Regions from separate parts of the Homo sapiens genome. Here region 2 is linked to region 1. The links come from fine-mapping of genetic effects on gene expression. Tissue or cell type: breast. Region 1 holds a variant in brackets; the other region holds the start of a gene. All regions are shown on one strand. Distances are from middle to middle.

Region 1 (2,685 bases):
ATGCATAGGCTGTAAACATTTTCTTTCATTCTATGGGTTGTCTGTTTACCCTGTTGATAGTTTCTTTTGCTTTGCAGAATCTCTGTCTTAGTATATTTACACCATTGGCATTCAAAATTATTATTGACATAGATTAATATCTACCATACCCGTTACTGTTTTTCTATTTGTTGCCTTGTTATTTGTTCCTCTATTTTTCCTCCCACTCTTTTTCTGCCTTTTGTGGTTTTTAATTGAGCATTTTATATGACCAAAAAATAAATAGTCAGCATATTTCTGCTATGGTCTGAATATGTTCCCCCAAAATTCATATGTTGAAATGTAACCACCAATATGATAAGAAATGAGGCCCTTAGGAGGTGATTAAGTCATGAGGGTGGAGCCCTCAATAATGGATTAGTGCTTTAACAAAATAGGTGAGAGGGGGCTATTCATCTTTTCCACCACGCAAGGACACAGCAGGAAGGTACCACCTTGGAAGCAGAGAGTGAGCCCTTATCAGACACCAAATCTGCTCTTCCCTTGATCTTAGACTTCCCAGCCTCCAGAACTATGAAAAATAAATTTGTATTATTTATAAATTATGCAGTCTGAGGTATTTTGTTATAGCAGCCCAAGCGCACTAAGACAACTTCCTTTTTAAAAAAAATACTTTTCTTCTTATTTTTTTCACTTGTTTCAGTATTTTCCCTAGATTTGCAGTATACGTCTACAACTAATGCAAATCCATCTTCAAATACCAAATACTACTTCATGGGTTGTACCAAGTATCTTATAATAACAAAATAATCCCAATTCCTGCCTCCTGCCTCTTATGTCTGCTCTCATTTATTTTACTCATACATAAGCATACTTAAGTATATGTTTCTATGTGTATAATATACATATACGATTAAATAATTGAATATATTGTTGCTATTATTATTTTGAACAAACTGTTACCTGTTAGATCAATTCAGAATAAAAAAAAAACACTTTCTATTTTATCCTCCCTCATTCCTTCTTCAGTGCTCTCTTTCTTTATATAGATCCAAGTTTCTGACTTACATGTTTTTCTTTTTCTTTGAAGAACTTTCAATATTTCTTACAAGGCACGTGTACTGACAATAAATTTCCTCAATTTTCGTTTGTCTGAGAAAGTCTGTATTTCTTCTTCACAGAGAGTTGTGGATGGAGCCCCTGCATCGCAGGATGAGAGGCCAGACCAGAGCAAGGCAGAGGATGCCATGTTCCTTCTCACCAACACGTGCTCCTCTCAAGCTGCCAACGGGGCGGCTGCACAACCAGAGTTCCAAATTACAAGCATGTTTTCTGGGAGGGGCC[A/G]CAAGGTAGACAACCCCCCACCTCCGGCAGCTGCCCAGGCCCTAAGCCCTGGAGTCCTGGCTCGGGCTATTACTGACCATCCCTGTGATCCTGGGCAAGAGGTCTATCTGCAGGGGAGGAGGTGCTGAACTAACACACTTGTGCGTAACTCAGGTGGCCCAGGTGGGCCTGCATCTCCAGGCCTTTCCAGGCAAAAGGTAAGAGTATTGGCTTGTGCGGCTCCCGTGACCCACACAAGGTCGTACCTTGGTGCCTTGCCATGAGCAGGCAGTCCTGCGAGTGCCACACTTCTTCCAAGGCCTGAGGTTTGGACAGCCTGGGTGCTCACTCTTTGCTGATCACTTCACAAAGCTATCAGATCCATCCCGCCTTGGTAATAGCTCTTCTCTCAAGGATGTCCTTCCAGCCTGCAAAATGCAAGGCTCCAAGCCTGTGTCCTGGCCAGGCCGGGGTCCAGTCTTGGACTCATACTTACCCCAGCCCACGGCTAGTCTGCAAGGGGACAAAATGGAGAGAGGGCCAAGACACCTGCCTGTCCCCCAGGACCTCTTTGCTTGGCCAGCTGAGGTCATCAGGTCATCGATTGGAAGGCCAGCTCTCCTCTCCACCTCCCATTCTGGCAGCACTTCACAGTTTACAAAGGAAGCTTCTCCACTCCCAAGAGTGTAACTGACCTCATAACTTCCTTAGAGAGGAGGGAAGCTGCTTGCCCAAGACCACACCACTTATAAGGAACAGGCAGGGACAGGGACTCACATCTCCTGTCTCTCCGAGCCCAGTGTAGCTTACACAGCTGCCCTCCCTCCCACCCCACTCATGGGCAGCTCTCAGGCTGCCTTAGGTGGCCAGGAAGCCCACCTGCCTCTTCCCCTAGTCCTGGGAGGGCCACCACATCCTGGGGTCAACATCCAATGAATTTGGCAGGCACTGTGCAGTGTCACTTTAATTAGGAGGCTGATGAGATGGAGGCTGCCATAGCTTTAGCAGTGGACTTTTCCTTAGTCCTGCAGACCCTCCCTACTCCAGCTCAGCCCAAGGCAGAGCCTGCTCGGTCAGCCACTGGCCTCCAGCCTGGCAGTGTCAGGAGGAGGGGAAGTCAGGCCTGGCGCCGGGGCTGGCCAGCCAGGGGCCAAGGACTGCAGAGCTGCTCACGTCCGCACATATCTAAGCATCCACATCCCATGACCTGCTTCCAAGGGCCAAGGCCCCCACCCCTCCACTGGGGACAGCTGCCTTCTGTGCTCAGCCAGAGGTGGCCCAAAAATTCTGGCTGGCCTAGCCTCGTGCCCCAACCTCAGCAGAGAGGCATGCAGAAGGCCACGTCTGCCAAGCCCTCCCAGGCCCTGCCCTACCCCAGGAGTG
Region 2 (2,685 bases), 56 kb after region 1:
CAGAGGCAGGAAGATCACTTAAGGCCAGGAGTTCAAGACCAGCCGGGGCAATATAGCAACACCACTCCATCTCTTAAAAACCACTTAGAGCCCAGAGTAAGCTGGTCCATTTCCTCCCAGGCTCTGCATTTCTGAGTGTTCGGTGTGGTTTTCACACTACATAACGTCGTGCCCCTCCAGGCCGTGAGAAGATGTAGTGCCCTCACCTTGGTTAATTGCAGGAATGTCCTTGTCCCCGGAGGCCTGGGTTCCCTCAGGGGTGAGGCCATCTGGGAAGCTGGTACCACAGGCTCCTGCGCAGCTGGAGGCCAGGGGCGCTCCTAGGATCACACCTGGTCCAGACAGACAGGGGCATACACAGATGCCTGGAGCACCCACCGGTGAGACCAGACAGCAGGACATGGGGTGGGTGTGGGGGATCAGACGGTAAGACTCAGTCCCTAGGAAGAGTAGGCTCCAGCACAAAGCCAAGGAGCCTTCCCAGCCTCCCTGCTCAACCCCAACTGGTGCCAAGGTCTAGATGACCTCAGGGAAGGAGCTCCCTTAGGGGGACCAAAAGGGACCATGTGCCCCACCTATGAGGTAGAGGAGGGGCAGGAAGGAAGGAGGCAGGACAGACCTCGGGTTCTGACGCCCGTGACGGGCAGGGCCAGCCTCAGACCCCACCTTATGACTCTCTCTCAGCCCAGGCTCTTGGACAATGGGCTCAGCCTGGATGACTCCCTGCCTGACCAGGCTGGAGTGGGGACTTACAGCCTACCCCCACCCCAAGACAAGTAGGCCTGGGGCACAACACTTATCTTCTGCCAGGCAGGCCCTCTGCTTCCAGGGCCTTCAGGAGGCCTCCCCTTGGCCCCCCAGGAGCTGACTTCTAGAATAACCCTGGAGAGCTCTGTGCTCTGAGCTACTGAGCTCAGCTACAATCCCTGCAGGCTCCAGCCACAACCTTCTAGCCTCTCCCCAGCTTTCTCCAGGCTGGAGCCAGCAGCAGGAGGGACAGGCAGCCAGCTTACCTGGCAAGGAGAGCAGACCCAGCACCCAAGGCCAGAGACCCCCTACACCCTCCATGGTAGAGCCCTGCTGCCCCTTCAGCAAACAAGACCAAGCCCCAGCAAGACACAGTAACCTAATTGCAGAACCGGCACCACCACCCCCTCTTAAATAGCAGCTGCTCCACCTCCCACCTTGCTCCCCTCAACCGCCTCCACCTGCAGCCCCGCCCCAACCACCTCCACCTGCAGCCCCGCCCCAACCATCTCCACCTGCAGCCCCGCCCCAACCACCTCCACCTGCAGCCCCGCCCCAACCAGCTCCACCTGCAGCCCCGCCCCAACCAGCTCTACCGGCAGCGCCACCCAAACCAGGTCTACTGGCAGCCCCTCCGATGCCTACCTGTGGTTCCCACCCCAGCCCAGTCCCCTTCCTGGCTGTAGCAGGTGAAAGACAGGAGGGGCCCGCTTGGGAGTGTGGCTCTTCTGAGGTTCCTTCCTGCCTCCAGGGGGCAGAGAAACATCGCAGAAAGTTGCTCCAGGCCTAGCTGAGGCCCCAGCCCAGGTATAGACCTATTCCTCCAGCGAGGGAGACCCCCTTTCCTACCCCGGCCTGTGCTTAGACATGGGGAAAGCTGCCTGAGACCCTGGGGCGCCCCCCGTGTATCTCCGGAAGGAGGAAAAGGTCACTGCACTTTCACAAGCTTTTATTTTAGTACACATATAGAAAAGTTCACTATCACAAGCACAGGGCTCCAGGAAATTTCACAAACTGAACAGTGTGCAGCACCCTAGAAAGCCTGCCATGTGGGAAAGGTGGAACCCCCAGATGCCCAGAGCCTCGCAGGGAGTCCACCCCCTAATCCCACAGCAGCTGGCATGATCAGTCAGTATTTATTCCCATTTCACAGATTTGGAAATTTAAACTCCTTACCTATATCCCCCCTCCTCCATACCCCTGAGCCCCAGAGCCAGGTCACTCAGGGCCCCACCTGGATTGAAATCCCAGAGGCGGAGCATGTCAGCGCTGGGCAGCATTTGGGGACACCCCCACAGTCACCTGCACCCAGTGAAGGGAAGCGACAGAGCCAAGAAGAATAGCTATTGTCCACAAGGACCTTTCAGCATTCCCACTGTGCCTGGAATCCAGAGCTTCTCCAAAGATAGGAATCAGAATCACAGGGAGACCATGATGGAGGCAGACGCCCTGCTGCCAGGGCAGGGTATTGACAGATGTCAGGATACACACCATGGATATGCTAGTTAGCTTGTTGTGGTCATCATTTCACAAGGTATGCATATGTCAAAACATCACGTTGTATACTTAAACATATACTACTTTTATTTGTCGATTATGCCTCAGTAAACCTAGAAAAAATAAGTAAAATAAAGAATAGGACCCATCAAAAAACAAATGCACAAGGCTGACCACTTAAGATGAGTGTTCAGGAGGGCGCGGTGGCTCACGCCTATAATCCCAGCACTTTGGGAGGCCAAGGCAGGTGGATCACGAGGTCAGGAATTCAAGACCAGACTGGCCACCATGGTGAAACCCCATCTCTACTAAAAGAATACAAAAATTAGCTGGGCACGGTGGCGGGCACCTGTAATCCCACCTACTCGGGAGGCTGAGGCAGGTGAATCACTTGAACCCAGAGGTGGAGTTTGCAATGAGCCAAAATCGCGCCACTGCACT

Direction of the effects. Positions count from the first base shown, and alleles are read on the strand shown. Sizes are in standard deviations (SD) of each study's normalised expression.
For the expression in breast of the gene that starts at base 1,134 in region 2, A is the low allele of the variant in region 1 and G is the other (moderate effect, 0.65 SD a copy in GTEx).

What was found. PIP is the estimated chance that this variant, and not a neighbour inherited with it, causes the effect.
Region 2: ASTL starts here. The variant in region 1 is fine-mapped to the expression of ASTL in breast (GTEx, PIP 0.97).

Annotation. Positions count from the first base shown.
Region 1 is chr2:96,080,983-96,083,667 of GRCh38, forward strand. No RefSeq gene overlaps it. Among named protein-coding and RNA genes, the nearest start is that of ADRA2B, 34 kb to the right of the region's middle. The variant A/G (reference allele first, on the strand shown) is at 1,324.
Region 2 is chr2:96,137,369-96,140,053 of GRCh38, forward strand. It overlaps ASTL (astacin like metalloendopeptidase), which reads right to left and starts at 1,134. Exons shown (of 9, transcript NM_001002036.4): 1 at 1,014-1,134; 2 at 207-332. The coding sequence starts at 1,068. RefSeq lists an enhancer at 989-1,058 and a silencer at 1,949-2,038.